Linked DNA regions of Homo sapiens: regions 1, 2, 3 and 5 are each reported to be linked to region 4. Evidence: microRNA targets listed by miRTarBase, many of them from high-throughput screens and not tested one by one. Region 4 holds a microRNA gene; each other region holds the end of a gene's coding sequence.

What was found. The annotated mature microRNA hsa-miR-744-3p reads CUGUUGCCACUAACCUCAACCU and lies in region 4 at 4,496-4,517, opposite strand. An mRNA with a match to its seed (bases 2 to 7 or 8) in the 3' UTR can be bound and repressed. Matches are read on the target gene's strand: a 7mer-m8 pairs with bases 2 to 8, a 7mer-A1 pairs with bases 2 to 7 and ends in A, and an 8mer does both.
Region 1: the mRNA of PRKAR2A is a reported target of hsa-miR-744-3p. Seed matches in the 3' UTR shown: 7mer-m8 at 3,730-3,736, 7mer-m8 at 3,285-3,291 and 7mer-m8 at 1,649-1,655.
Region 2: the mRNA of NUCB1 is a reported target of hsa-miR-744-3p. The part of its 3' UTR that is shown has no 7-base or 8-base seed match.
Region 3: the mRNA of UFL1 is a reported target of hsa-miR-744-3p. Seed matches in the 3' UTR shown: 7mer-A1 at 1,866-1,872.
Region 5: the mRNA of UNC13A is a reported target of hsa-miR-744-3p. Seed matches in the 3' UTR shown: 7mer-m8 at 3,458-3,464.

Annotation. Positions count from the first base shown.
Region 1 is chr3:48,746,687-48,753,088 of GRCh38, forward strand. PRKAR2A (protein kinase cAMP-dependent type II regulatory subunit alpha) reads right to left here. Exons shown (of 11, transcript NM_004157.4): 10 at 5,490-5,631; 11 at 1-5,032. The coding sequence ends at 4,899. Among named protein-coding and RNA genes, the nearest start is that of IP6K2, 33 kb to the left of the region's middle.
Region 2 is chr19:48,921,917-48,928,272 of GRCh38, forward strand. NUCB1 (nucleobindin 1) reads left to right here. Exons shown (of 13, transcript NM_006184.6): 12 at 1-16; 13 at 402-1,456. The coding sequence ends at 508. Among named protein-coding and RNA genes, the nearest start is that of NUCB1-AS1, 6.2 kb to the left of the region's middle. RefSeq lists an enhancer at 820-1,319 and a silencer at 4,996-5,290.
Region 3 is chr6:96,552,673-96,558,990 of GRCh38, forward strand. UFL1 (UFM1 specific ligase 1) reads left to right here. Exons shown (of 19, transcript NM_015323.5): 19 at 613-2,604. The coding sequence ends at 831. Among named protein-coding and RNA genes, the nearest start is that of FHL5, 7.3 kb to the right of the region's middle.
Region 4 is chr17:12,080,081-12,086,482 of GRCh38, reverse strand. It overlaps MIR744 (microRNA 744), which reads right to left and starts at 4,584; the gene lies at 4,487-4,584. It overlaps MAP2K4 (mitogen-activated protein kinase kinase 4), which reads right to left. Exons shown (of 11, transcript NM_003010.4): 3 at 4,953-5,127.
Region 5 is chr19:17,600,909-17,607,310 of GRCh38, reverse strand. UNC13A (unc-13 homolog A) reads left to right here. Exons shown (of 44, transcript NM_001080421.3): 44 at 957-5,975. The coding sequence ends at 1,257. Among named protein-coding and RNA genes, the nearest start is that of COLGALT1, 48 kb to the right of the region's middle. RefSeq lists silencers at 651-870, 1,241-1,500 and enhancers at 585-1,489, 1,490-2,394.

The DNA.
Region 1 (6,402 bases), not on the chromosome of region 4:
AATTCTTAATGACTGTTCATTATATGTTTAACACCACAGAGCAAGAATTGATCACGTTTCAATCACTTATTCTTCTGAGATTAAAATACAAGATTAAAACAGATTAAAATAAAATTCACTCCAAGAATTTAAAAAATAATTCCAAATGAAGGACATTTCAAACACTGTATATAGAACTCAGGACCAAAAGAAGACCTTAAAACATTTTTTACCTTTGAGGTAGCACAATAATGCTGAATTAGATTTATTTTATTACAGTGAGCTTAAAAAAACAACACGGAATCTACCCTTTGCTCAAGGTGGGCTAAATGGTTTTACGCAAACCCCTCCATGAGGTTAGTGACAGTTCTTGTCCTTTTTTTTTTTTTTTTTTTTTTTTTTAAAGTATAAAGATAGCCCTGCAGTGTGTAAAAGGAAACCTATGGGAAGGCTGCTTCCCATAAAATAGACAATAGAATCATTGAGGAACGTCAGCAGTCAAGACAGGAGGAACAAGAGGTCATTGTAGTGAAAAACCAAAACAACTTGTATCTTGGCAAGATTGGTTTACAAGTTCATGACAAGAACAAAAATTCCAACATCAGCCAACTGAAAATAAAAGATAAAAGATGACATTCATGGATCTTTTTATTTTTCTCTGTGCAAAATGCTCTTCTTTCTGAATTAGAGGGTAGCTTGTACACTGTGACATGACATGAAATGCTGTGTGCCCAGGGTGCTGCTGGGTGCCAACAGCACCTCTCACTGAATACGATATCACTGTGTGCAGAGAAAACGGGCAATCAGAGGATAAACATAACCTCTCCTGGCTGGAGAACCATTTCTTGCGACTTTGCTGCTGAATTCACTCATTAAACTGCTCAAAGGAAAAGCTCTACCCTGATTTCTGAGAGTCTACAGCAATATATGTAACACAATTATATATGAAGACTATTGACTAACAGGACAATAGCACATGAACCTTTCCTTCAGAGAATTCAACCAAGAGAAGAGAGTGGGTGGCATAAGCTGGGGGCCAAAAGGAAGGCTCTCAGGAATATTCTCTACCATCCAAAATCAACAGCAAAGCCAGAAAAGGGGCATGAGCTCTAATTCATTGAAGAGAACACCACAAAACAGTTAACAAAGGGATCTCTTTCCAACACATGCTCCTCTCCATGAGGCTCAACCGTCAGTGCAGGGCTTGCCTGATGTGGACAATGTGGATACCTCAGCCCTGAGTTGAACTTGGCATGCCACCTTTGATTCCCCATGCTGCAAAAAGAATTGGAACGCTGTCAGGTCCTGGCACCGTGGTAATGGCTATATCCTATTTCACTCACACACGTCCTTTTAAAGTCTCCCTTCCTCAAGCTATTAAATAGAACCCTCTAGGGATCCTGTATGCAGTGAGGGTCTGAACTGATGATCCATATGTCAATCAGTAGTTGGAGGAGGATGACTTTTTTTTTTTTTTTTTGAGATAGGGTCCCACTTTGTCCCCCAGACTGGAGTGCAGTGGCACGATCATGGCTCACTGCAGCTTCAGTCTCCCAGGTTAAAGGAATCCTTTCACCTCAGCCTACTGAGTGTGCACCACCAGGTCCAGCTAATTGTTTTTTTAACTTTTTTTTTTTTTTTTTTTCTTGGTAGAGACAGGGTCTCCCTCTGTTGCCCAGGATGGTTTGGAACTCCTGGGCTCAAGCAATCCTCCCACTTTGGCTTCCCAAAGTGCTGAGATTACAGGCATGAGCCACTATGCCCAACCTGAGCAGGATGACTTAAACCTGATCAATTCTACTCCAAAACAGCAACTATCATTAAGTCAGGGGTGTCAAGGAGGACTCTGTGAAGGCAAAGACTAGACTGGGATGTGTGCGAGAGTGGGATAAGAAGGCCCATCCCTAGCAGACTGCAGGAGTGACTCTGGCATAGAATTCATGGCCAGCCCTAACTAGTGTGATGGGTGGCAGGGAGGAGGCATCTGCTCAGTGTTCAAACAAAATCCTTACAAGTTCTGGGGCTGGACCTCTGTGTCACTCCTGAATCCCAATGTATCCGTTACCTTTACAAGAAACTGGTGTGGTTCTTGTCTGCTAAGGGCAAGACCTGTTTTCTGAATTTACTTTCTGATAATAAAGTAACACCATGGAAAAGAAGAACCTCAGAAAAATATGGGGTCACCACATGGGCTTTCCCAGTGCTAGCTGCCTGTTTTGGAAAGCTGCAATGTAGGCTACAGAGGGCAGTCTGAAAAGAGTCCTTCTGCTTTCGCTTCCTGGAGCTTAAGAAGAAAAGAGGAATTACCAAGGTTGTGGTGGGTTATTTACTCTGGAAATATCTTGGTCACACTGTCCGTGGCAAAAGCGGAAAGCCTAGCTTATGTGGATAGTTGAAGGTGACTGTGTGGGCCATCATTATCTACAATAGAAATGACTCAAGCCCTAGCATGTAATCTCTTAGGGACTTAACAAGTTAAAAAGAAACAAAAAATCATATTGGAAATGGCCTCTTGGTTTAATATAAACTTGGTTACAACATTCAAATTTATCTTTACGGAAATTTCACACTGCTCCTAGGAGCCCTTATAGCATCTGATTCTAAGTTATTCTGAAGGAAAAAAAAATTATTCTGAAATATACCTTATTAGGATGATCACTGGAATTCTACCAGATATAAGTAAAAGGCTAAATGGGTTTTAAATAAATACAAGCTAAATTACCTTCTTCTGGGGTTAACAATTAGAATCCCAAATACCCCAACATCTCAACTAGAAAGGCCTTCACAGTAATTCTATGAAATTGTAAATGATGCCAAATTTTTTTTTTTTTTTTGAGATGGAGTCTTGCACTGTCACCCGGGGTGGAATACAATGGTGCAATCTCGGCTCACTGCAACCTCCACTCCCAGGTTCAAGCGATTCTCCTGCCTGAGCCTCTCAAGTAGCTGGGATTACAGGCGCCCACCACCATGCCCAGCTAATTTTTTGTATTTTTAGTAGAGACGGGGTTTCACTATGTTGGCCAGGCTGGTCTTGAACCCCTGACCTCGTGATCCGCCCGCCTCGGCCTCCCAAAGTGCTGGGATTACAGGTGTGGGTCACCGTGCCTGGCCAATGCCAATTTTTGAAAACAGATTTGATCTTTAGGGTAAATGCCTGAGTCAGCTGACAAACTCCATATACATGAATATGTCCAAGTGAAATTACCTAAAGAATAATTTTTTTTCTTTCTTTTTTTTTTTTTAAGAGACAGGGTCTCACTGTGTCACCCAGACTGGAGTGCAGTGGCATGATCACAGCTCACTGTTGCCTTGACCTCCTGGGCTCAAGTGATCCTTCCACCTCAGCCTCCTAAGTATTTGGGACTACATGCATGCATCACCACACCTGACAAATTAAAAAAAAATTTTTTTTTTGCCAGGTGCAGTGGCTCACATCTGTAATCCCAGCACTCTGAGAGGCTGAGGTGGGCGGATCACCTGAGGTTGGGAGTTTGAGACCAGCCTGACCAACACAGAGAAACCCTGTCTCTATTAAAAATACAAAATTCGCCCGGCATGGTGGCGCATGCCTGTAATCCCAGCTACTCAGGAGGTTGAGGCAGGAGAATCACTTTAATCTGGGAGGCGGAGGTTGCGGTGAGCCAAGACCGCACCATTGCACTCCAGCCTGGGCAACAAGAGCGAAACTCCGTCTCAAAAAGAAAACAAAAAAAAAATTTTTGTTTTTGTAGAGACAGGATCTCACTCTGTTGCCTAGGCTGGTCTTAAGCGATCCTCCCAGCTCAGCCTCCCAAAGCACTACAATTATAGGCATGAGCCATTGAGCCTGGCCTGAGAATTTTCTTTAATTTCAAAAAAATAGCTGCTGCTTCTTTAAAGAGTTTAAAAATTGATCGGTTCAATGGCAAAGCTACACAACAACTCTGGAGTAGAAGGAAAGAACTCTCTTTATAGTACAACCTCTTTCCAGCATACTGCCATCAGCTAGTAGAGGCAACTGCAAACAAATGGTAGGAGTTGCCCAGGAAGGTATTTGGGCTGGACAAAGTGATAGCAACCCTCCAGACCCTGGCTCCTTATAAATGTATAGCAATTCATTCATACAAACTGCACAGAGGTTAAACAAAACCTACTAAAAAAATTAAAAAATCCCACAAAATCCCCAACCCAGAAAACGTTTCCTGGCTCTCTACTAACAGTAAAATGTGCTGAGCCCAAATTTTCTGCTCTAACATGGGTCCCACGGACCTATCAGTCTGCTCTGGGGTGCTGACCTGCTGGGTCCTGAGCAGGGTCTTTCCCTAAGCATCACTGTGGGTTTGGAGACAGCTGTAATGTGTGCAGCTGTCAGCAGAAAGTACAATGCCACTGGGCTACATATGTCCATATCATCCACCACCATTTCCCACTGTAAAACCAAAGGCTGCAACTGTGAACAAATGTGGACTTCCTCAAAGGACAAATGAGGAGACTGAAGGCTACATTTCCTCCTTTGAGAACCATTAGAGAGTGTCTACAGTTATACAACAGGTTTCTGCAGACCCTGTGGTAACTTCCAAAAGCAAGAGTAGCAGCAAGAGAGGAAAGGAGCATGTTTATACTTTGGACTTTGTATCAGGCACTTAAATTGTTGGAGAGACATGCCGTTTTGAACCAAAGATATAAAAACTGGGTTGGAGTAATCTTTACAAGTGGTCTAATGAATGGGCCTTCAGAAGCAAAGTGGAGGTGTGGGTTGAACCTCTGCCCATCCTTTAGTGCTGACTTTCAAGTTTTCTAAATGCCCATAACCACAGCAATGGCAGCAGTGGCGGCAACGGCAGGAACAGTTCTGTCATGTCTGTTTTCTGTATGTGTTCTGTGGCTGACCAGAAGGTTTTGGTGTCACACTAAGAAGGCTCTGGGGTGTGGCACACCTACTGCCCGAGGTTGCCCAGATCCACGCTGGAGCCAAACATCTTCACCAGCTGTTCCTCATAGTGTGAGATGTTCCTCTTCATGATGTCCATGCAGGGCCCCAGAAGCCTCTCGAATGCTTGTACATCCATAACTGCATTGTTAAAAAGAGGTGAGGGAGAGAATGAATTCAAGCCATTTCCCTCATGCAAACCTTTTCCTAAACATACCCATTCATGTTGTATGAGATTACGCCTTGGGACACCAGCCACTTGCAAAAAGGGATGTTTCTATATGAATTCAGAAGACTGTCATCCAGGTTAGAGACTTTACAGAGTCCAGCAGCTCCTGTTCTCCCCATTCTCCCACAGCCCTGGACATCAGTTCTTTTCATACGGCTAAAGAACCTGCATGCCTGTCTTGCTCACAGGCTGTCATCAGTACTCAGAAATGTTTGCTGAAAGCATCCATTCATCCATCTCTGGTTGGTCACATAAACTGCCTAGGCCTAGACAGCAGTAAAAGATGGCAGAATATGTCAAGGCTTGCTGATGGGAAAAAAATATTACATGTTAGAAAAAGAATATTAATGCATAAAGAACTTTTCTTACCTAAGCATTTGACATCTCCAACTGCATAAGCTGAGGCAGCTCTGGGTTTGTTGGTGACCAGGGCAAGCTCTCCAAAGTACTGCCCCTTATGGCAGCGGGCAATCTCGACCTCCTGGTTCCCACCATCCTTGTTTGATTTAGTCTACAGCAGGCAAAGAACATGACCTAGGCTGACTCCAGGATCACAGCTGGGCATGTCCAGTTGCACACACATACACTGTTCTCAGCATACTCTACACAATTACTGAGGAATTCACTTTGCAGAAAATTCACTAACTGTACCATGTAAACTCCATGGACTAATCTCAGTGGTCTGGTTTGATCAGAAAAGTCTGCTTTTTACCTAGAGCTCGGAGTCCTAACATTTTCAAGGTAATCTACAGCCATACCATTCTGAACATGCCCAATCTTGTCTAAATAAGGACAATGCTTCTCTTAGGTAATGAGCCACAAACTTGGGCTATTTCTCTGATTTGAGACTGCGCCTTGAACAACATTTTACAGTGACAAAATCCCCCATGCCCCCCACATTTTTTTTTAAGAGACAGGGTCTCACTCTGTCACCAAGGCTGGAGTTCAGAGGAATGATCACAGCTCATGCAGCCTTCAACTGTTGGCCTCAAGCAATCCTCCCATCTTGGCCTCCCAAAGTGCTCGGATTACAGGAGTGATTCACTGCTCCTGGCCAACAAATTTCTTTTTAAGTACTATTTGTACCTTAAGTTAGTGGTTCCCTCCTCCTTTTTTTTTTTTTTTTTTTTTTTTTTTTTTTTTTGAGATGGAGTCTCGCTCTGTCGCCCAGGCTGGAGTGCAGTGGCGCAATATCCGCTCACTTCAAGCTCTGCCTCCCAGGTTCATGCCATTCTCCTGCCTCAACCTCCCAAGTAGCTGGGACCACAGGCGCCCGCCACCA
Region 2 (6,356 bases), not on the chromosome of region 4:
TTCCACCCAGACACAGGTGCTGGCCCTAGTCCAGGGAGGAGGGGCTGCAGGGCTGGACCCCTGGGTCTGAGGTTGGAGGGGCTGGGCCTGGACTCCCAGATCTGAGGGAAGAGGGACTGGGGGCCCAGACTCCCAGATCTGAGGGAAGAGGGACTGGGGGTCCGGACTCCTGGGTCTGAGGGAGGAGGGGCTGGGGGCTGGGACCCCTGGGTGTGAGGGAGGAGGGGCTGGGACCCCTGGGTGTGAGTGAGGAGGGGCTGGGGGCTGGACCCCTGGGTGTGAGGGAGGAGGGGCTGGGGGCTGGACCCCTGGGTGTGAGGGAGGAGGGGCTGGGCCTCTGGGGTCCTGGGGGAGGAGGGGTTCGGATGTCCTGTGCCACCATTCCCTCCCTCCATTTCCAGACGATGTACCTGTCCCAGCTCCAGCCGGTGACCAGAAGGAGGTGGACACTTCAGAAAAGAAACTTCTCGAGCGGCTCCCTGAGGTTGAGGTGCCCCAGCATCTGTGATCCTCCGGGACCCCAGCCCTCAGGATTCCTGATGCTCCAAGGCGACTGATGGGCGCTGGATGAAGTGGCACAGTCAGCTTCCCTGGGGGCTGGTGTCATGTTGGGCTCCTGGGGCGGGGGCACGGCCTGGCATTTCACGCATTGCTGCCACCCCAGGTCCACCTGTCTCCACTTTCACAGCCTCCAAGTCTGTGGCTCTTCCCTTCTGTCCTCCGAGGGGCTTGCCTTCTCTCGTGTCCAGTGAGGTGCTCAGTGATCGGCTTAACTTAGAGAAGCCCGCCCCCTCCCCTTCTCCGTCTGTCCCAAGAGGGTCTGCTCTGAGCCTGCGTTCCTAGGTGGCTCGGCCTCAGCTGCCTGGGTTGTGGCCGCCCTAGCATCCTGTATGCCCACAGCTACTGGAATCCCCGCTGCTGCTCCGGGCCAAGCTTCTGGTTGATTAATGAGGGCATGGGGTGGTCCCTCAAGACCTTCCCCTACCTTTTGTGGAACCAGTGATGCCTCAAAGACAGTGTCCCCTCCACAGCTGGGTGCCAGGGGCAGGGGATCCTCAGTATAGCCGGTGAACCCTGATACCAGGAGCCTGGGCCTCCCTGAACCCCTGGCTTCCAGCCATCTCATCGCCAGCCTCCTCCTGGACCTCTTGGCCCCCAGCCCCTTCCCCACACAGCCCCAGAAGGGTCCCAGAGCTGACCCCACTCCAGGACCTAGGCCCAGCCCCTCAGCCTCATCTGGAGCCCCTGAAGACCAGTCCCACCCACCTTTCTGGCCTCATCTGACACTGCTCCGCATCCTGCTGTGTGTCCTGTTCCATGTTCCGGTTCCATCCAAATACACTTTCTGGAACAAATGCATGGCTCCATGCCTGTGTATCTGGACTGGTCCCTCCAAAACGCTATTGCCACGTCACCTGCCGGAGTCCTCATCTTTGAAGACTGGATTCAAGCATCACTTCTGAGAGGCTCAATCCTGGTATTTTTCCATCTGCCCCTGATGAGTCTGCAGCCTTCACTCAGGGTCCCTTCAGCCACAAGGACAGAAAACCCAAACCTGGGATTAAGCAATTTTTTTTTTTTTTTTTTTTGAGATGGAGTCTTACTCTGTCACCCAGGCTGGAGGGCAGTGGTGTAATCTCAGCTCACTGCAACCTCTGCCTTTTGGGATCAAGCGATTCTCCTGCCTCCGCCTCCCGAGTAGCTGGGATTACAGCTGCCTGCCACCACGCCCGGCCTTCTAATTTTTGCATTGTTTTAGTAGTGATGGGGGTTTCACCATATTGGCCAGGCTGGTCTTGAACTCCTGACATCATGATCTGCCCACCTTAGCCTCCCAAAGTGCTGGGATTACAGGAGTGAGCCACTGCACCTGGCCGGGATTAAGCAACTTTTAAAAGATGAATTTGGCCAGGTGCTGTGGCTCACGCCTGTAATCCCAACACTTCGAAAGGCCAAGATAGGGGGGATCACTTGAGGCCAGGAGTTCAAGACCAGCCTGGTCAACATGGCAAAACCCCATCTCTACTAAAAATACAAAGATGAGCCGGGTGTGGTGGTGGGCACTTGTAATCCCAGCTACTCGGGAGGCTGAGGCAAGAGAATTGCTTGATCCTGGGAGGCGGAGGTTGCAGCGAGCCAAGATTGCACCACTGCACTCCAACCGGAGTACCAGAGCAAGATTCCATCTCAAAAAAAAAAAAAAGAATGTACCAGGTATGGTGGCTCCACCTGTAGTCCCAGCACTTTAGAAGGCAGAGGCGGATAGATCACGAGGTCAGGAGATGGAGACCATCCCGGCTAACACGGTGAAACCCTTTCTCTACTAAAAATACTAAAAAAATTAGCTGGGCGTGGTGGCAGGCACCTGTAGTCCCAGCTACTCAGGAGGCTGAGGCAGGAGAATTGCTTGAACCCAGGAGGCAGAGGTTGCAGTGAGCCGAGATCATGCCACTGCACTCCAGCCTGGGTGACAGAGCGAGACTCTGTCTGAAAAAAAGAAGGCTGAGGCAAGAGGATCACTTGAGCTTAGGAGTTTGAGACCAGCCTGGGCAACATAGCGAGACCCCGTCTCAGAAAAAGAAAAAAAATTAGCTGGGCATGGTAGTGTGTGCCTGTAGTCTCAGCTGCTTAGGAGGCTGGTGTGGGAGGATCCCTTGAGCCCTGGAGTTTGAGGCTGCAGTGAGCCATGATCTATCACTCCACTGCACTCCAGGCTGGGTGACAGAATGAGGCCCTGTCTCTAATAGAAAAAAGAATAAATAAAAATGAATTATGATAAAAACCAAGATGTCCCAAGGCAGGATGACTTCAGGGAACCAGGTTCTCGCATCCCCTAGCTGTGCCAAGGATAGGTTTGGGGGCTGGACCCCCCCTCATGGTCCCAAGGTAGCTGCAGCTGCTCCAGATGTCACCAACAGCCAGTGAAGGAAGAGGCCGCATTCTGTTCTGGGCATTGTTAAGTGGGAGAAAATCTGTCCCCAGAGTTCCCTCTCCTTTCAGCCCTCTCCTCATGTTCCCTTATATCCCACTGGCTGTGAGGCACAGGTCAGTGACAGCTGCAGACAGATCCACCAAGCTGGCATCCACCAGTGGTGATTTCATCCTCACCTGGGATGGGGATGCTTTCCTTGGACCAAGTTGGGGTCTGGTAAAAAGCAAGCGGGGAATATTTGTTTTTGTTTTGTTTTGTTTTTGGAGACAGAGTCTTGCTCTGTCTCCCAGGCTGGAGTACGATGACGCGATCTCGGTTTACTGCAACCTCTGCCTCCTGGGTTCAAGCGATTCTCCTGCCTCAGTCTCCTGAGTAGCTGGGATTACAGGTGCCCAGCACACACCCGGCTAATTTTTCTGTATTTTTAGTAGAGATGGGGCTTTCACCATGTTGGTCAGGCTGGTCTTGAGAACTCCTGACCTCAGGTGATCCCCCCGCCTCGGCCTCCCACAGTGTTGGGATTACAGGCCTGAGCCACCACGCCCGGCCAGGAGTATTTGTTTAAATGAAATTCTGGCCAGGCACAGTGGTTCATGCCTATAAGCTCAGCACTTTGGAGGCCAGGGATGGGCAGGGTGGGGGGTTTCAGGAGAGGATGACAGGAGGATGACTCAAGCTCAGAGCTCAAGACCAGCCTGAGCAACATAGCAAGACCTCATCTCTAAAAAAAAAAAAAAAAAAAAAAAAAAAATTAGCCGGGTGTTGTGGCATGCACCTGTGGTCCCAGCTACTCAGGAGGCTTAAGGACAGAAGAATCGCTTGGCCACAGAAGGTTAAGGCTACAGTGAGCCATGACCACGCCACTGCACTCCAGCCTGGGAGACAGGGCAAGACCCTTTCTCGAGAAAAATAAATAGGCCGGGCACAGTGGCTGATGCCTATAATCCCAACGCTTCAGGAGGCCAAGGAGGAAGGATCCTTTGAGCCCAGGAGTTTGAGGCCAACCTGGGCAATATAGGGAGACCCCATCTCTATGTAAAAAAATAAATAAATAGGGCCAGGCGCAGTCACTCACAACTATAATCCCAGCACTTTGGGAGGCTGATGTGGGCGGATCACTTGAGGGCAGGAATTCAAGCCCAGCCTGGGCAACGTGAAACCCCGTCTCTACAAAAAAATACCAAAATTAGCCGGGCGTGGTGGTGTACACCTGTAATCCCAGCTACTCAGGGAGGCTGAGGCACAAGAATCACTTGAACCTGGGAGGCAGAGGTTGCAGTGAGCCAAGATCACACTACTGTACTCCAGCCTGGGTGACAGAGCAAGACTCCATCTCAAGAAAAAAAAAAAAATTAGCTGGGTGTGGTGGCACATGCCTGTAGTCCCAGCTACTTGGGAGGCTGAGGTGAAAGGATCGCTTGGGCCTGGGAAGCGGTGATTGCAACGCTGCACATCAGCCTGGGTGACCAAGCGGGACTCTGTCTCAGAACAAAACAAAACAAAAATACATATTCCCAGATCCTGGAATGTCCTGGGAAGCTATATGTGTGTCATGCCCTCCCAGCTGCACCTGAACAATGAGCATAGCAAACATCAGCTGCAGCCTCTCTTTGCCTCTCTCAGAAAATGAGGGGAGTTGAGCTTCAGTGACCCAATCTGGAAAACGGGCCTAAATGGTGTTCTTTGAAAGGTTCATATAGGCAAAGCGGTCCCCAAATGCCGAAGGAGCCAAGAAACCAAAGAATGAGGCCGACCCATCTAGTTTGTCAATACAGGGTGGTTTATTAGGGGGAAACTTAGAGTGTGGTCTTCGCCAGGCATGGTGGCTTATGCCTGGAATCCCAGCACTTTGGGAGGCCGAGGCAGGTGGCTCACTTGGGGTCAGGAGTTCGAGACCAGCCTGACTGACATGGTGAAACTTGTCTCCACTAAAAATACAAAAATTAGCCAGGTGTGGTGGTGGGCGCCTGTAATCCCAGCTACTGGAGAGGTTGAGGCAGGAGAATCACTTGAACCCGGGAGGTGGAGACTGCAGTGAGCCGAGCTCACGCCACTGCACTCCAGCCTGGGCTACAAAGCAAGACCCTGTCTGGAAAAAAAAAAAAAAGAAGTGTGGTCTTGGGCAGCAGCAAGACAGATAGATCACACCCTGCAACCCCCAGACACAGGGCTTCTATCTCGAGGAAAGCATATCTGTGCTCTGGAAGAAACGCGTAGGTGGCTATGGGCGATACATCTTGTGATGGATGTGACAACATCAAGGCTTGTTCTGGAGGAAAGGCTGGTAAGTACGTGTTTCTACATAAAGAGTAACACATCCGTTAGACATGTTGGAGGCATTCCCAGTTTCGGGTTAGTCAGAAGTCACACGGCAGGCTGGGTGCAGTGGCTCATGCCTATAATGCCAGCATTTTGGGAGGCTGAGGCAGGAAGACCGTTCGAGCCCAAGAGTTTGAAACCAGCCTGAGCAACATAGTGAAACCCCGTCTCTTTTTTTTTTTTTTTGAGACAGAGTCTCACTCTTGTTGCCGGTGGCTCGATCTCGGCTCACTGCAACCTCCGCCTCCCGGGTTCAAGTGATTCTCCTGCCTCAGCCTCCTGAGTAACTGGGATTACAGGCGCCCACCACGCCCAGCTAATTTTTGTATTTTTAGTAGAGACAGGGTTTCGCCATGTTGGCCAGGCCGGTCTCAAACTCCTGTCCTCAGGTGATCTGCCCTCCTCTGCCTCCCAAAGTGCTGGGATTATAGGCATGAGCCACCACGCCCAGCCAACCCTGTTTCTTTCTTTTTCTTTTTTTTTTTTTTTTGATACGGAGTCTTGCTGTGTCCCCCAGGCTGGAGTGCAATGGCACAGTCTCGGCTCACTGCAACCTCCACCTCCCGGGTTCAAGCAATTCTCCTGCCTCAGCCTCCCAAGTAGCTGAGATTACAAACCCCGTCTCTTAAAAAAGGAAAAAAATCACATGGCAGAGTAGCATTTTAAAATAAAGTCACGAGGCTGGGCGCGGTGGCTCACGCCTGTAATCTCAGCACTTTGGGATGCTGAGGCAGGCGAATCACCCGAGGTCAGGAGTCTGAGACCAGCCTGACCTACGTTGAGAAACCCCGTCTCTACTGAAAATACAAAATTACCCGGGCCTGGTGGCGCATGCCTGTAATCCCAGCTGCTCAGGAGGCTGAGGCAGGAGAATCGCTTGAACCCAGGAGGTGGAGGTTGCGGTGAGCCGAGATCACGCCATTGCACTCCAGCCTGGACAACAAAAGCAAAACTCCGTCTTAAAAAATAAATAAATAAATAACATTAAACTACGTCACTCAGCCTGTGAACAATGGCTCACGCTTATAACCCAGCAATTTGGGAGGCCGCAGCAGGTGGATCACTTGAGGTCACGAGTTCGAGACCAGCCCGGCCAACATGGTAA
Region 3 (6,318 bases), not on the chromosome of region 4:
TTCAATACACTTGAAACTTTCAAAGATTTACATTCTGAATATTTTGAGTGGATTGAGATGAATTACTGTCAGCACTCAGGTATAAAATACATTAACATCAAAGCCCATTTCCAATAATGTGAACAGTGGATTAGGAGATTAATTTTTTAAAATTCCACATAGCTCAAGAATCTTTCAAGAATGTTCTGAATTTGGAAATTAAGCTTTCAGAAAAGATACAATAATGTCAAATCTCCCATTTCAGCTTCTTTAGGTTTAACTTATCCATCAAGGACCCATTCAAAAGTCTTGTCCTATCCCTTTTAGCTAAAAAACCCCTCAGCTAAAAGGGAACTTCCCTATCCCTTTGACTGTATCTTTGGTGATAGAACCAGGTGATAAGTTGACTTTACCATAAGTCAACTTATGGTAAAGTGATTTGCATTCATGTTTTATCTCTCCTAAATTGTACACTCCTTGAGAGCAGAAACTGCTAGATTAGACTTGCTACTTACATGGCCAGTTTTTTGTAAAGATGAGGACCTTCAATGTGTATTAGTTGAAGAAATTCTACTTTATCTGTTCCACAAAAAGATAAATTGTGTTGATTAACTTTTCTTTCCCTTTTCACAGGATCAGCATGCTCTTTTGGTAAAGTATCAAGGTTTGGTTGTAAAGCAGCTAGTCAGTCAAAGTAAGAAGACTGGGCAGGGAGATTATCCCTTGAATAATGAATTAGACAAAGAACAAGAAGATGTTGCCAGTACTACTCGTAAAGAGCTTCAAGAACTTTCTTCATCCATTAAAGACCTTGTTCTCAAATCTAGGAAATCATCTGTGACGGAAGAGTAATGATCTTAATTTACATTTGTCATATAGTAAGCATTTTCCCCCAAGGTTGAAGGTGAGTGGTCACAAAAAAGTAGTCACTATACAACTCCCCTCTCCCTGCAAAAACCACCTCATACACACACAATTCAGTTAAAACAGTAGTATTGTATTAAATGTAAATCTTAAAAAGATGTGAATTTTTGTAAATTGGGTTCTTCATGGAAGTTTTTTTCCACCTGATTTTCACACAAATACTATATGAAATTTTTCACATTATTTTCACATAATTTTAAAAATTACATATTTCAGGTTTGTTCTCTTTCCAAATGTTGAATGAAAAACAAATTTTCCAATCCATTTATCCCTGGGGAAGGATTCATTTGTTGCGAGTGCCAGTATACTTAAATGTATACTTTATATACATTTAAGCAGAAATTTAAAATGTGGTCTTTTTTTTTTAAAAGAAACACTTCTGTGTCAGAAATGAAAATAAATCATGTTTTTTATTTTTAAATAGAAAGCACTTCAAAACTAAAATACAGAAATTTACAAAAAAGAAAAATTATTACTAAGCCCTTGCTCTTATTTTTGGCAGAATAAACATTGATTTTGGTTGGGGCTGCAAGGATGCCTTTACAGGTGCACAAGAACGCTAGAGTGGCCCATGCATTGCTGTGTTCTCTTCTAAAACAAGCTACTAACAAGAGAGAGAACACATGCAATTTATTACCAGTAAGCATAAGTCATATTTAACATTGGAATAACTAAGCATTTTATACAAAGATTTTTCTTTGACCCAGTTTGCATTTGTACATTTTATTTTTTTAGTTCAACAGCTGCTCTGTCACATAATACTTTGTAAATACTAGTGTGAAAAACAGATAGGATGCCTTTTCCAGTGGTAGGAGCATCTGTAAGTGCATTTAAATCATTAGAAGCTTTTTTCCAAAACTAGAAACCCTTATTAAAAAATAGACATTTTTTTCTAAAGATTATTAGTTAAAAATAACTAAAAGAGTTCCTTAGAGTAATCATTTCAACCAAATGAATTTCAAGCAACAACTTACTTACTATTTATCAAAAAGGGATTTAATTATTTTGAATATAATTATAAATTAAATTTCAAATATTTAAAAATACTATTTTATATAATTCCTTATGACATTTTAAACTTTATATTTTAAAATATTTGAATACGAAAAGATCAGTCTACCTCTACTCCATTCTAGACAAAGTATTAATCCTTAGTGAAAGTAATTAATTAAATTGCCAACTTGGCATTATTATTAAACTTGATAGGAACGCAACATTAAATTTAAAAATGTTTTCCCGTGGGTAATTTTCTATTATATATTTTCATATGGGCAAAGGGAAAAAATGATAAATCCTCTGTAATCACAAACCCCAATTTCGTTTTGTTTATTCAGCTTCTAAAATATTGAACACCCAGACTTTTAATTCAACCTTTAAGAACCTTATCATTTATGTTTCAGTAGATATCAAAGTAATCCATGTTTGTGTCAAATGATCATAGAAAATAAATAGAAGAGACAGTGAAGCAAGTAAAAAGAAAAGCATTGTTTTAATTTGTTTGCATTAATTTTTTTCATTTGTCAAAATGCTTCTTTTGTTGCCACAGTAAAGAACAGTTTTTATTGTTTTGTAAGTAAAATTACGTAGCTGATTTTGTATGTAAAGATTAATTTCCATAATAAAAATTATTGTATGTTTACTGTGATCTTAATGGGCAGGGTTAAGAAAGTTATTTAAAATAAAGTTACCTATTCTACTAAATTTTATAGTACTTTGAAGCTTCTATTAATTAACACAAAGATTAATTGGTGCATATATTTTATATATATACATTTTGAATTCTCATTTTGAACATTATTAAAGGATTTTATTTTTCTTACACAAAAATAGTTCCAGAGCTCTCAGTGTCTTTCATTCCTTGAGAGTTTGCCATTCTCAAACCATTTTATCTTAGTAAATTATTTCTCAATTAACTAGATTTCAGCAAATGTGTAGCTGTATTCTTGCATATGCTAATTCCTGCTATTGCAGTCGGGGTAGAAATATTGGAAAATGTGCTCAGGTATTCATGTTCATGTGTTCCAGCTCTAGACTTACTTATGTGCTTTTCAAGAGTTAAGGAAACTCTTGGCCATCAGAAAGATCCGATGAAGAGTGGCATATAGTATCAAAATCACAGTGTATTTTGTGAAAAGACCTTAATGCTAAATTAGGACAATAAATGTAATAGTTGCTTAACCTGAATGTATTATTAGAGAAATGCTTTACTTAGACCAAAAAGCACCATGGATAAGGTCAGGGTGCAATGGTGATCTGAAGCTGGAATCAGACTGAAAAGGAACAGTTCATTCCTTCCTCAGAAATGTCACTAGAACCAGAGTGTATTAGTCCGTTTTCACGCTGCTAATAAAGACTACCCGAGACTGGGCAATTTACAAAAGAAAGAGGTTTATTGGACTTAAATTTCCATGTGGCTGGAGAGGCCTCACAATCATGGCAGAAGGTAAAAGGCAATGTCTCACATGATGCCAGACAAGGGAAGAGGAGCTTGTGCAGGGAAACTCCCCCTTTTAAATTCATCAGATCTCATGAGACTCATTCACTATCAAGAGAACAGAGCAGGAAAGACCTGCCCCCATAATTCAATCACCTCCCACCCTGTTCTTCCCATGACACGTAGGAATTGTGGGAGTCAGAATTCAAGATGAGATTTGAATGGGGACACAGCCAAAACATATCGTTCCATCCCTGGCCCCTCCCAAATCTCATGTCCTCACATTTCAAAACCAATCAATCATGCCTTCCCGACAGTCCCCAAAATCTTAATTCATTTTAGCATTAACTCAAAAGTCCACAGTCCAATGTCTCATCTGAGACAAGGTAAGTCCCTTCCTCCCATGAAGCTATAAAATCAAAAGCAAGTTAGTTACTTCCTAAATACAATGGGGATACAGGCATTGGGTAAATACAGCCATTCCAAATGGGAGAAATTGGCCAAAACAAAGGGGCTACAATCCCTATGTCAAAGTCCAGCAGGCAGTCAAATCTTAATGCTCCCTTTGACTCCATGTTTTGCATCTGAGTCACACTGATGCTAGAAGTGAGTTCCCATGGTCTTGGGCAGCTCCCCCTCTGTGGCGTTGCCGGGTACAGTCTCCTCCTGGCTGCCTTCATGGGCTGGCATTGAGTGTGGCATTTCCAGGCACATGGTGCAAGCTGTCAGTGGAGCTACCATTCTGGGGTCTGGAGGACAGAGGCCCTCTTCTCAGAGCTCCACTAGGCGGTGCCCTAGTAGGGACTCTGTGTGGGGGCTCCCACCCCACATTTCCCTTCTGCACTGCTCTAGCAGAGGTTCTCCATGAGGACCCCGCCCCTGCAGCAAACGTCTGCAGGGGCATCCAGACGTTTCCATACATCTTCTGAAATATAGGCGGAGGTTTCCAAACCTCAATTCTTGACTTCCGTGCACTCGCAGACTCAACATCACGTGGAAGCTGCCAAGGCTTGGGCTTGCACCCTCTGAAGCCATGATTAGAGTGGTTGGGATGCAGGGCACCAAGTCCCTAGGCTGCACACAGCACGTGGACCTGGCCCACGAAACCATTTTCTCCTAGGCCTCTGGGCCTGTGATGGGAGAGGCTGCCGTGAAGATCTCTGATACGCCATGGAGACATTTTCCCCCATTGTCTTGGTGATTTAACATTTGGTTCCCTGTTACTTATGCAAGTTTCTGCAGCTGGCTTGAATTTCTCCTCAGAAAATGGGTTTTTCTTTTCTATCACATTGTCAGGCTGCAAATTTTCCAAACCTTTATGCTCTGCTTCCCTTATAAAACTGAATGTCTTTAATAGCACCCAAGTCACCTTGAATGCTTTGCTGCTTAGAAATTTCTTCCACCAGATACCCTAAATCATCTCTCTCAAGTTCAAAGTTCCACAGATCTCTAGGGCAGGGGAGAGATGCCACCAGTTTCTTTGCTAAAACATAACGAGAGTCACCTTTGCTCCAGTTCCCAACAAGTTCCTCATCTCCATCTGAGATCACCTCAACCTGGACTTTATTGTCCATATTGCTCTCAGCATTTTGGGCAAAGCTATTCAAGTCTCTAGGAAGTTTCAAACTTGCCCACATTTTCCTGTCTTCTTCTGAGCCCTCCAAACTCTTCCAACCTCTGCCTGCTACCCAGTTCCAAAGTCACTTCCACATTTTCAGGTATCTTTTCAGCTGCACCCAACTCTACTGGTACTAATTTACCATTTTCATGCTGCTGATAAAGACATACTCAAGACTGGGCAATTTACAAAAGAAAGAGGTTTATTGGACTTACAGTTCCACATGGCTCGGGAGGCCTCACAATCATGGCAGAAGGTGAAAAGCGCATCTCACATGGCGGTGGACAAGAGAATTTGTGCAGGGAAACGCCCCTTTTTAAAACCATCAGATCTCCTGAGACTCATTCACTATCACAGGAACAGCACAGAAAAGACCTGCCCCCACATTTCAATCACCTCCCACCAGGTTCCTCCCATGACACATGGGAAATATGGGAGTTACAATTCAAGATGAGATTTGGGTGGAGGCACAGCCAAACCATTTCACAGAAACAAATGGGATTTTTTCTATCAAGAAGTAACTGATGTGAGTTGGGAGGGAGTAAGAGGATGGAAGATTTACTTTCTTTCACTAAGACCAATGAAGAATTTCCCCCAATACATGGGAGATGTAATAAATGCACACACAAAACTCCCCTGGGATGTACATTTTCCACACAAATCTGGGAGCACTGTTCAAGTGGCTATTTAAATGACCTGCAAATTCACACAAGTTGCTCTATCTTGAGGACCCTACTAAGCGTACAACAGAATAAATAGATCCAGGAGAGGCTTCTTTCAAACCTTCTAAGAATGAAACTGACTTTCAGGCTTTCAGAAAAACAATTTGTATTACACTTACATCATAAAAAAGAAGGAATAACCACTGTAAACATGTATTCAATGTTTATAAGTTCCCAGTGTTGTATTATTTGTTTTATCAAACTTGCCCCTAGTTGCATCTCTATTTCTCTGAAGTGATTAGTAGTAAGACAATCTGGGTGTTTGTTTTAAGGAGCAGGAAAGACAGGATTACATTGATGGTGAAATGGAGGAAAGGGAGAACATGGTGAATTTATGGACTTGGCCTAATTTACTCGATCGTGTATGACAGCTAAATACTAGGAAGGCACATATCAACTTTAAAGGTATGTTTTACTTTCAAAGAAATAACAAGTCAATAATTACAGTTAAATATAGTGTCTTGGTAAAAGTACACAGAGGGTGTTGTGACAAGAAATGAAATTTAGACTGTGTTGCACAATGGGGAGGCTGGAAATAACACCTGAACCAAGAGTCCAGAGAGAAAAAAAGAAGGATTAGCCTTGGTGAAAATGAGAGAAGGGAAGGAGAGCATATTAAGGCAGAGAAAAGGAGGTACAGA
Region 4 (6,402 bases):
CATTAACTTGGAGTGACAGCAAAACAAGCACACATGTATACTGGGAATTCCAACCCCATCTACATAAGCAACCTGAGTTCAAAATCAAGGCTGCCTAGAGGCCAGCCCTGCCACACCCCTTGAATATGTCTCCTCCTGGAAATGCTCTACTTACACTTTTCATATGACCACCACAGCTTTTAAGCAATATTAGGAAGCATAAAAGAATACAGCTCAATCACAGATGCCTTAAGTAAGTCACATGATCTGACCGAACGACGGCCTAAGATATTAGACTACAGTCTCAATTCTAAACAAAAGAGCCATGACATCTGCATCCCATAGGTGATTTGGATAATCAAATATGATCACTGCGGCCCTTTGGAAGTGAATAAAATGGCCTAACAAAGCACTCTATGCCATCAAAAAGGAACTTTTCCAATTGAAGGCCATCCCAGTATCATTCTAGTGCTTTCAGAACATGCAAGACCAATGTTTAAACACTAAAATGAACCTCCTCAAATCATTATTCATCATCATAATCCCCACTGAAATAATTTGGTAATGGAACTTTTGACAGAAGTGGCATGGTCTCTCCAGTGGCAGGAAAACAAGCCAAGCCATACTTTTCTGATACCTGACTTCCCATACTCACCATACTATCTACACCAGGGAGGCCTACTCAACCAGCAGATTAAAGTTCCGTTCTACTCAGGGAACAGCTGAGCTGTGGGCTGCTGATACTGTCAGCAGAGGGCTCTAGTCCTTACTATCAAGCATCAGGATTAGGCTGGGTCTCAACTCCAGGTCAAGGACACTAAAGTCAAAATCCAAATAATCAAGGAGAGGCAGGATTGCAGGAATCAAAATCAGGTTAACAGGCCAGAATCAGCAAGACTCACATCAATGAAACAGTAGAGGTGAAAGGGTAGAGCTGAGGTTCAAAAGAACAAGACAAGTTAGGCAGATCTCCAACAGAAAGAAAATACTTGAAACTCTTGCATACCAGGTCACATTGCTAACTCAGTCCGGCCTATGCACCTACCCTCAAACAACAGATCTGTTTTTCCTGATTAACCCAGATAATTTCTCAAGCAGAAGACTGAAAAGTCATCATAATGATCCACAATGACAAATTTAACATGACACATTCTTATTCCCACCTACCTGCTCAATATTATTCAGTTCTTCAATGAGATGACAGCTTTATTACAGTATTAACCCTTCACACAACAATTCAGATTCCACTGCCTGCCATCATCTTTAGTGACAGGTACTTCAGTCCTTATACTCCCTCTCATTTTCATTCTTACTTTTTCACGTTTCTTTGGTTTTTCGCACATATTCTACAAACATGAAAAGGGCATGCATACCTTCAAGAAGTCAATCTGGACATGAGTCTGCTAGAAAACAACAGGGAAGCTGGTACTCTAGGCATGCAGGATTTTTTACACTGCAGGCAGAGTCAGGTGGAGAATATACTGTCAGGCATCAGAGGCTTACAGTCATTCTTCCCTCTGTCAGCCATCTGAGCTTGTAAGCCCATGGTCTAAGCTGTGACATTTCATTTACTCTCTTTTCTCCTGTGTCCCTAGATTTTCTGTGGCATCCTGATTCTGACTGATGATGCTAGGTGTTTCTCCCAGATCTGAATTACCCTAGCTCAGAAACCTAATCCTAACTGCCTCTTCAAACATTTGGTCTGAACTCTGGGCTTTACCCCGCTACATTTAACCAGAGAGCTGGTTAACATATAGATGAGGTACTCCTCATCTATATGTTAATTGATGTGTTGTATTGCCATCCTCTCCCATTTCCACCTGCCAGAGAGCTGAGCAGGCACCTACTTTATGTAGAGGACAGTGACTGTTCATGTCTAATGTTTTCATTCAGTGGTTACCCCACCACCGTGCAAAACAGGACACTAAATAAATGTTATTTGTAAAGGATACTGATCACAGTTAGAAGTAAATCCCTGGTAAGAGTTGAAGGTTGTTCTCCCTGAGCTTTAAGAAACCCCAGAGGCAACACTGGCTTTGCCCTAGGCAGCCCTAAGACTAGTCATTCAGGCACAAGTATACAAATTACTCCCACTCACAGGAGAGCAAGACCCTTTTCCCAAGCACGTGCAATTAAAACTAAAGGGTAAACCATGTTCACATCTTAGGTCCTAATGCAGAAACTCACCGATAGCTTGGGAGACTGTCCTCAAACCAAACATCAAAAAATTGTTTTAAGTATAACTCTTACAATGTTACCTCACTAAATCTGATTATATCAAAACTGATTTTTAGATTAAGTCTTTGGGGTAATTAACTCTGGTTACTAAGAAGTCACCTTTTTCAAATATTTCTTATATATGGCAAAATAAATTTGGGGAAGGAATTCCTCAGAACTAAAAATGAGGAATAATACAAAGAAAAAAATCAAGCTAATATCACAGTTCACTTTTCTACAGATATTGCAAGTAAATCTTAAGGATCATTTCCAGCTTAACATCTAATAATGCAATCCTTCTTTATTCTCAAAGTGTGTATTAAGATGTTAGCACAGAGTTACTTCAAGCGTGTTTCTCATTTCACCAACAGCAATGGAAAGCTCTCAGCTGTGTGAACCACCGTCTCATGGTTCCTTTAAAACCGTAAAGTCTCAAATCAAACACCTCCTTAATCATACATTGATTCTGTATATTTGTGCCTGTCAATCCAGTCAATGTACCTAAATGAGGAATGAATGAACTCTCTCAAGTGTGATGAAAGACTATTCTTCTTTGAAGAAACCAATAATAAATGCATTCTTTAATTCAGAGATGGCATACATCTGTCATCAATTGGTATCAAATTTTAATGCATATTAATGCAAAAACACTTATTCTTCCAGTATTAATGAAGTCATGGAATCCAAAGGTACTCCTCAACTATATGTTAATTGATGTGTTGTACTGCCATCCTCTCCCATCCCCAACTGCTATGCTTGTTCAAGAATTCGAGATGGTAAACGAAGCTAGGTAGTACCATGTGGTGGGTATACATGTGACAGCAACCAGTTTGTAGGTCTCATGACTGCCTTGAAAGTTCTTCAAGTACAGCTGGGATTTTTAATAGCATCCCAACTGGAACTGTCACAGTAGCCAGTAGCCACTGATAATGTAACATTACAAATGATGGACAACAATTTCCTATTTTCATTCTTGAATTCCTACAAAACTTGAGTAAGCATTATACAACCCAAAATATTATCAAATTAATCAGTGAGAAAAACTTTTAAGTGTCAAAAGGAAGTACCCTCTTTACCTTTATGACCTTTTTAACAATGGCTAAAATCAATCCATATTACTAAAATGTTTAATAATGTTCATCAACAAAGTTGAAGCACACATAACACAAACTGTAAAAAGCAGGAAATAATTTTTTAAAATTACTTTCCCTAGTACCTGAAAGAAAAGTTTACAACTTTAACTATATAGGAAACCTTTCCCTTAAGATCCAGCCAACTAAAACTGGATGTCACACACAGGTAGCACAAAGGGACAACACAACATTCATCCAGGAGTCTAAATAAAATGACTCTTTCCACTTACACTGCAGTGGCACAAAATAGGAATACAGAAATCATTTCACATTCCAATAAAACATTTTATTTTAACACATAATGCAGAGTTCTTCACCTGTGCATCTTTAGAGGTCTACGGTTTGTATACAAAATGTTGTGTATATACACCTGCCTATGAAAAGTCTATAGTTCTCACCACATTTTAAAAATACAGCCAAAAACAATGTTAGGAACCCATAGAGAGAATCATAAAAATTTTCCCTACCACTAATTTAACATTACTTTCATATGACCCAGCAAAAAGAAATGCTCAACAGTGAAGGATACTAAAATAGTTACAGTAAGGTTTGGCTCACAACAGACTTCTACACAGAAAGCATTTTATTTTAATTTAAATTCATTCTCAAATGTCAAGAAAAAACTAAGGACTCTTATCAACCACTCTGACAAACTCTCAAAATAGGACACTAATAGGAAGATGATTAGCTTGGACTATATGCAAATCCATTCTGAATTCTTGTAAACTGAAACATTTTTGTTCCCATAGGAATTTTAAGCTCAGAGAGGGTATGGCCACAGCTAGCTTTTTTTCCTTTGTTTTTGCAAGTTGTTCCCCCTGTTGCTGATTTTCCTGAAATATCTTACATACAGCAAAGATTTGTTAAACATCTAAACAAACAAATGAATAAATTACAATTACATGAAACTAGGAGTCAGATGGAAACCACCAGTTCTTTACAGGTACCAGCATAAGCTTGCCAGGTATTGTCTATGGATCAAATCTCTGTTTCTGGCCATTTTTTTTTTTTAATGAACATATTAAGTGGCACGACACAATAAGGACAAAATGTGACAACATTATCACAAGGTATGCATTTCAGTACAACTTTAAAACCAGGGAACAGGGCAGTACTGAGTAGAGATGAAATAAACAAACAGAAGCCGAGCCGGTCAGGACCGAGTAAGGTTGAGGTTAGTGGCAACAGCATGTGCGTGGTTTCCAGGAAACCTTCAGTAAGACTGCTGTTAGCCCTAGCCCCGCACCTTGCCCAACCCAGTGTGCTGCGTCTTCTTCCAGCTCCCGCCTGGCTCAGTGCAGCACTGCCCTGCTCCCAGGGGTGCAGCCGCCCAGCCTGAACTCACCTTGGCAGTAGAAGGGCCTGAAGTTTAAAACATGTTAATGCATCATGCCAAAAATGCAATCAACATGCACACTTCATACACTCATGTTTCCAAAGAGATAGAAAATGTGCCACCAATAAGAAACCTCTACACAGAACACCCTCAAAGGAGTTGGAGAAACAATTTTTTAAACACCCACATTTACCACAAAAGTAGGAACACAACAACAGTGGTATTACTGCACCATGAAATTTCACCTAATGGATTAAAGTACCAAAAATAATCATGGCATCACCTACTTTAACTGCCATTATTTGCCCACTTGGTTTGTGGACCATTTTGTTGACAGAACCATAAGCTCCTCGTCCAATTTCTCCAAGGTCTTTCAAGTCCTCTGCAGTGAAATCCCAGTGTTGTTCAGGGGAGATCTTCAGTTTTCCTGATGACTCAATGCTGTGTGTTCTCAGTCTCTCTCTGTTAAAATATTGGGAAGCAATTTTTCCACATTTTAAATAGGTTTTAACTTTTTTCTTTTAGTACTGATTAATGTGTGGGAAAAATGTTTTCTAAATTACTAAAATAGTCTGACCTCCAGGTTTTTGAAGTTTTTCATTTGTGTCATCCTGGTTTTTTACACACTGGATTAAGAATGATCTAGATTTAGGTAGTCAATAGACACAGCTTCAACGGGATTCATAAAAACAAATTGCCAAGAAGATTTTTAAAAATTCCCATTTATTGATTAAACTAATTCTGCAGATCAGTTTTCATTTCTAAATATAAGATCTTATTCAAACTTGGATGATGGTTTATCCAAACAGCATTATCAAGTGAGAATCCCAAGAGCTGCAAACCTTATTGCGAAAAAGTTCTTACCCTATCTTACCCAACATTAGTTATTCCAGTGCCTCAATCTTCAGTTAGTACAACTATTCCCAAGGTTTGCTGTACCTTACAATCACCTGGGGGAGATTTTAAAAATCTCAATGCCCAGGTATCGTCCCATAGCAATTACATCTGAATTATCCAGGGACAGGAGTCAGAAAACAGTATTTTTAAAGACCCCCAGATGATTCCAGTAATGTTTGGGAACTAGTGCCTTAGTATACTGTCCTGTTCTTGTTAATACCATCCTGAGGTGGGAGAACAGTTAACTGAATAGCTAGCTGGCTCTAAGAGGAAAATTGCCATGTGCTATTCAAAATTGAAATTTTCAGCCCTCGTTCGATAAAGCAATGGGATAAAAAATGAGTGGCTCGTAGACAAAAGAGCTCACTCATTACATATTTCCATTAAATAAAAAATCATCTCCAAAATCTCAACCTGGAGATCAAAGTATTAATAACTTCTAACCATGCTTTGTAAAAAAGTAAATCCAATGAAAAATGTAAAATCAATCTGTTTCTCTCTCTTGCTCTCTCTCACACACACACCAAACCCCAATGTGTAGGAACAAACTATCAACCATACACACAATGAAAGAATTCATTAAATATCAACTACATTTTTCAGTTTCATACTAAATGATCAGGATCTCTTTTAAACTCTGATCCTATGATGCAAACAAGCAAAGTTTATGTGCTTGGTCATTATTTTTCTTCTTCCAAAATTTAGGAAAGTTTTCTCCAATTAGTAGAATGGTTTTCTGTAGCAACCTTTAAGGTTCCCAAAAAACTTAGAACTTTAAAATCTACCCCCACTCTGAGAATAATCGTATGTACTAATATTAAGGTTCAAAGTTACACTTCA
Region 5 (6,402 bases), not on the chromosome of region 4:
CAGCCTGGGTGACAGAGGGAGATGCCCACTCAAAAAATAAAAATAAATAAAAATAAATAAAAATGCACAGGGGTAAGGGTAAATCAGAGCTGGTTAGCTGGTATTATCTAGGGGGCCTGGGAGCTCTTATGGGACAAGATTGAAGCCAGTTCCATGTCGTGTCAGCACAGGGCTCTTGGTCAGAAGGTTTTGGGGCGATTGGCCCCTTTAGGGGATACTCAGGAGGAGAAGCATGGTCTAGTGGGAGGTCAGATGTCAGCCAGGGTGGGCCGGAGTACTTCAGGGATAGAGGTACAACCTGGGAGGTGGACAAGAGGGAGAAGCTGGGCGTGACCCTGTAGGAGGGGCTCTTATCCAGCTGGCGTCAGGGCAGGTCACTGGGACTGCTTAGGGGCAGGAGCACAGGTGAGGGGCATGCGGGAGGCGGTGTCACCCATGGTGAGGCACCAGGGCAGGCTCATGTCTGGAGGGCATCTTGGAAGTAAGAGGGGTGGGCTGGGGGTGTGGGGGGCTGGGGAAAGGGCCACGTCGTGGGTCTAGAGGAGAGCCTGGTTAAAGAGCTTCTGGGTGGGACATTAGGGGCAGGGCCGTGCGGGCAGCAGTTCAGCCGGCAGAGGGCACAGGCGCGGGTATCTCAGGGTGGGAGCATGGCCTTGCAGGGCGGTGTCTGAGGGGCGGGAGCTGGATGTAAAACTATGCGGTCATTTTTCGGTGGGTGGAAAAATGGGAAGAACAGGCGTGGGCGTGGCCCAGCTCGGGGTCAGCTGCTGTGGGCGCGGCCAAGCACAGGGTTGTAGGTCAAGTAACGGGGCAGGGGCGGGGCTAGCGTAGCGTGGGAGGTGACAGGTGTGGGCACCCCGGTGTGGGCGTGGCCCGCAAATGCGGTGGGGACGGGGCCGTGGGCGGGGCATCACAGTAGGTGTGGCCTGTCTCACGTTCCGCCCCTCCCCACGCAGCACGCTGAGCGCCGACGCGGGTCCCGAGTGCTATGAGCTGCAGGTGTGCGTCAAGGACTACTGCTTCGCGCGCGAGGACCGCACGGTGGGGCTGGCCGTGCTGCAGCTGCGTGAGCTGGCCCAGCGCGGGAGCGCCGCCTGCTGGCTGCCGCTCGGCCGCCGCATCCACATGGACGACACGGGCCTCACGGTGCTGCGAATCCTCTCGCAGCGCAGCAACGACGAGGTGGCCAAGGAGTTCGTGAAGCTCAAGTCGGACACGCGCTCCGCCGAGGAGGGCGGTGCCGCGCCTGCGCCTTAGCGCGGGCGGTCGGCCGAGCGGCACTGCGCCTGCGCGGAGGGCGCTGGGCGGGGAGGGACGGGGCTTGCGCCTTGGTGGGACCTCCCCAGGGGCGGGGCTCGGGGGGCTCCACGCCAAGGGTGGGCTGCGCCTACGCCCTTGACTCAGCTTTCCCTTTTGGGGAATTAGGAATGGAGGATGCCCCGCCCTCTCGGGAGGCCACGCCCAAGGGCGCGACGAAGGAAGGAGCCACATCCCCAACTTGAGGCCACGCCCCCAGCACCTAGGGGGCATTTTGAGCTGGGATGGGGGAAACCTCGTCCCTATGGAGGAGGCCACATCCCGGGGCTCTGGTACCGGGAGGCACCACCTCATGTCCCCTGGAAAAGCCATAAGATGGGACCCAGACCCCTGGGACCCCAGACCAATTGCCAAGTATGGAAATCTCAGCTCCCTCGAGGGGGGGCCCTGGGCAAGGGGTAGGGCTCTCTGGAGCGCCCCTCTAGGTGGCCTGGGGACTGGAGGGACCAGGATGCTGGTTGGAGGGCCCCGGAATACCGGAGTCCCTTTAGATATTTGTGCAAAAAATAAATGGGGGGAGGGGGGAGGATGGGATTTCAAAAGCACATGCGCCCTTGGGCGCCCAAACCCTGGGGGCCGAGGGGACGGCTCTGGTTCCCCACGCTGCCCCTACTTCCCTTTGGGAGTTTGCCTCTCCCTCTCCCCCAACAAACCCAGTCCTCATATCATAGAGTTCAACACACCCATTTGACAGATGGCAAAACTGAGGCTTAAAGAGCTGCTTGAGACTTGGCCAAGGTTCCAGGTGCCATACCCTCTGTGCCCCTCCCTTAGGCCTGTGTGCCCCATGGAAGGGTGGGCTGAGATCGGGATGACCTGACACAGCTCCCTATTGCTGCTAATTCCCCCTCGGCCTCCTCCAAGGGGTGGGAATTCCAGGCCAAGACCCCTACTTCGCCTTTCCTTCTCCGGCTGCCAAGCAGGACCTTTGCCCTCAGCCCTTTCTCCTGGGATCTCCATGGGGGATGCCATGAGGGCCTCCCACCACAAAAGAGAATTTGGGATCCCCTGGTCCCAGGTTTCTCCATCCCTTCTTCCTTTTCCAGAATTTTCCAAATAGGAAAGAACAGAAGGAGACCAGAAACTCTAGGGGGGAGAAAGAGAATGAGAGAAAGAGAATGAGAGAGAGAGAAACACAAACACAGTGACACAGTGAGAGCTTAGTCTCCAAGAGCCTATTCATTGATTCAAACACCCAAGCCACAGGATACCTCAGATGGCCCTCTTGCCAGCTGGAAGCTCTTTCTCCAATGAGCAAAGTTACAGTGACCTGGCTGGAGTTACCTGGTGCACATAGGACCTTAGGGGAAAGTTCAGCGTGGACTACACTTGCTCTGGGATCTGCTTTTCCACATGTGTGTATGGCACGCCTTTTTCTGCTGGATTGGGAAGGACAAGATTTTGCTGTGCTAGGGAGAAATGAAAACGGGGTGAGCTGAGTAGCTGGGTTTCTGGAGGATAGAACATCAGATGGGGAGGCTTTCCGAGGTGAAGAATGAGAGGGAACCACTTACTAGAGAGAAAAGAGCTCCAGGCCTGGGGAACAGCACGTGCGAAGGCCAGGAGAGAAGAACTGTTGAAACAACGAGAAGGGTGGCACGGCTGGAGCTGAGCCAGCAAGGGGGATCGTGAGGAGCCTTGGGGTTGGGGAGATCTGCAGAAGCATCAGACCAGGCAGGGCCTCGTACGCAGTCCTGAGGAGTTTTACTTTTATTCTAAGACAGTTGGGGAGCTCCAGGAGCTGTTTTAAGTTGGGGAGAGACTGGATTCCAGCCTGCAAAAGCTGTTTTGTGAAGACTAAAACCAGTGAGGAGAGGTGGAGGTGCTTTGGGGACACTGAAATGGATTCTTGGAAAGATTCTGAAGGCTGTGTTGAAAAGACACCTATAGCTGTGGGGACATGACTATAATCCCAGCATTTGGGGAGACCGAGGCTGGCAGATCACTTAAGGTCAGGAGTTTGAGACCAGCCTGGCCAACATGGCGAAACCCCATCTCTGCTAAAAATACAAAAATTAGCTGGGTGCAGTGGTGCATGCCTGTAGTCCCAGCTACTCAGGAGACTGAGGCGGGAGAATTGTTTGAACCCTGGAGGCAGAGGTTGTAGTGAGTCGTGATCACACAACTGCACTCCAGCCTGGGCAACAGAACAATACTCCATTCCCTCCCCTCTACCCCACCAAAAAAAAAAAAAAATCCTGCCCTTAGATGAGCTCTAGGGCTGCTGAGTACAGTTGTCCCAGTTGCACAGTGCCCAAGGGTTTGGCATTGCTAAGAAGGCCACGTGCAAATCCTAGATATTGAGTGTTGTATGTTTGTGACGTTGGTTTCCCGACATGTGAATGGCCCAAGTGTCTGGAAGAAGTGGCGCCACTTTCTAATTTGCTTGGAGATGTTGCATGTCCCTTAAATTCAGACAGGTGCAGGTAACTGGAGGTTCTGAACCAAAGGTTAAAATGCAAATTCTCATACAGGGTTGGGAAGTTGTAGCCAGGGATAAGCTTATGTGACTGTTATATGGACTGAGGAGCAGATGTGAATTTCGAACCATGACATGGCTGAGGGTAGGGGTCGGGTGGATGGATGATTCAGGGTTGTAACCCATAGAGCCCAAAGGGGAAGTGATCTGTGACCTGGGGTGAGGGTGATCTGGAAGATTTTTGGATGGCTGGAAAGAAATGGGGAAGTCGAGCTGCCTGAGAGAGCCAAGTTATTTCCCAAAAGATTCCTTAGGAGTCTTTCTGTTCAAGACCTCCGTGTGTGTGTGTGTGTGTTTAGGGTTCCCCAGCAATGGCCCAGGCATGTGAAGGAAACAAGCTTCTTCAGGGAATATTTGTTGAATGAGTTTTCCTGACTCCCAGGCTAGAACTGTTTTTGCAATTTCCACCCTCTTTTCTTTCCCCCAGAGAACTCCTATTCGTCCTTCAAAACCCATCACGGAAACCCCTCTTGGAGAAAACCCTCCTTCCTTCCCCTCAGGACTTTCCCAGCCACCGTCTCTCCTCCAGTCCAGCCTGATGCCATGGGACTGGGGGTTTCTCTGTCCAGCTCTGTTTCTCCCAGACTGGGGTCTGAGGACTCTCAGGACCCCCAACTTTACCTAGCACAGGCTGGGCACAAGTGGGTGACAGGGAGTCTACGCCTAGTGGAATTATGTATTGGGGCAGGGTCAGTGTGAGAATACACATCCGCATGCATGTCTGTCCATGTCTGTCCGTACCAACCTTCCCCTTCCACACGGACCTGGGCACATAGGAGGTGTCTGAGCCTGACACATGGGACAGAGAGTGGACATGGCTGAGACACGGACAGAGAAAAGACAAGGAGTCCAGGGGGCTGAAAGCCTTTTGAAATCAGGAAGTTCCTGTATTGGCAGAACAAAGCCCAGAGAGGAGCAGGGCTTTCCTCAACGCCACCCAGCAAGTGGACACAGAGCCCGGCCTTGGATGACACCTCCAGGGTTCTGAACCCTGGACCTCGCTTTATGCAAGGAGCTGGCCCCACATTTCCATGAATCGGGGAAACAGCACAAGAAGGTTGGCCTGTGGCAGGGCAAGGGTTAAAGGGGTGACATTGAGGGATGCCTCAGAGTCAAAGTCCCCTGACCAAGAGGAATAGAGTAGAAAACACAGAGACAGAGGGTGAGATCACGCCCCGATGAGGACGGAGAGAGACAGAGATGGAGAGAGACATAGAGGTGGAAATATACAGAGAAAGATAAATGCAGAGACCAAGGCAGGGAGTGTCGGGGGAAGTAAAGAGGGTGTCCTGAAGAAAGAAGGATCTGTTCACTCTTACCAGTCTGTCCTCGAATGATTTGCATAAAATGAGGAGGTGCCTGTCCACACCCCCAATTCCTCTCTCAGGCCCCAGAGCCTGAGACCTCACCATGCCCCCATCAGAGATGCAAAAAACTAAACACCCAACTAGAAATCCTTGGGACCTCTCTCGGCTGGGATCTCAGAGCCTTTCTGTCCCCTACCCCTACCCCATGTGCTGTCGATTTTGCAGATGGGGACAACCTGGGGCCTCCCGGAACTCTGCCACCCTGGGGAAGTTGGGGGAGGGCCTTAGTCCCGGATCACAACCCCGTCTGCTCCCCAGAATCCTTTCCTAAGAATCGTTGAGGACCAAAGTTGTCTTTGCTGACACGTGTTGCTTTTCTCTTTGCCTTTTATTGTTTCAGAGAAAAATCAAGTTGACTGTGTCAAGTAACACCCCACCCCTTACCCCCGTCCAGCCATAGTGGCTCTCTGGAGACACAGGTCACAGGCGGAGGGTCCCCTGATCATCCCCAACCACACAGCCAGGGGGACTTGACCCCTGTCCACCCCTGTCTCGTGCTCCCTCAGACCCCCACAAACCGGCCAAGCAGTCCGGGGAGGCTTCCCCTCCACACAACTCTTAGCATGTGATTGCAGATGTGAAATCAAAACGTTGTTTGTTTTTTGTTTTGTTTTGATTCTACCCCGTCGGTCCAGTGTCTGCACAGACGCCTTCATTTCTCTGTAAATATGTGACTTGGAACAAATGTTTAACACAAACGAGAAGTGGTCATGAATGCATGGTGTTGAGATGTTTTGCACTATTCTGACTTTTTGGTCTCTGTAAAAATATTTTATTAACAGCAGACATTAAAAAAAGAAAAACCACACACAGCCTTGGACACGTGGTTGCCTCCTCCTTGCATTCCTTTATCAGCAAAAAAACAAAAACAAAAACCTCACGTACGATTAGCACCTACTAGGTAGGCGCAGACTCAGTAGAACACACTGCTTGCCCATGAACGCGGCTCATCCGCAACTGGAGTCATCCCCATTTTACAGAGAAGGAAACTGAAGTACAGAGAGACAAGATCTTGCTCAGATCACATAGCCAGGAAGAGATGGAGCTGGGACTTGAACTCAGAACATTTGCAACCATTGCTTTTTTTTTTTTTTTTTGAGATGAAGTCTCTGTTGCCCAGGCTGGAATGCAGTGGTGCAATCTCAGCTCACTGCAATCTCCACCTCCCAGATTCAAGCGATTCTCCTGCCTTAGCCTCCTGAGTAGCTGGGATTACAGGCGCCCGCCACCTTGCCTGGC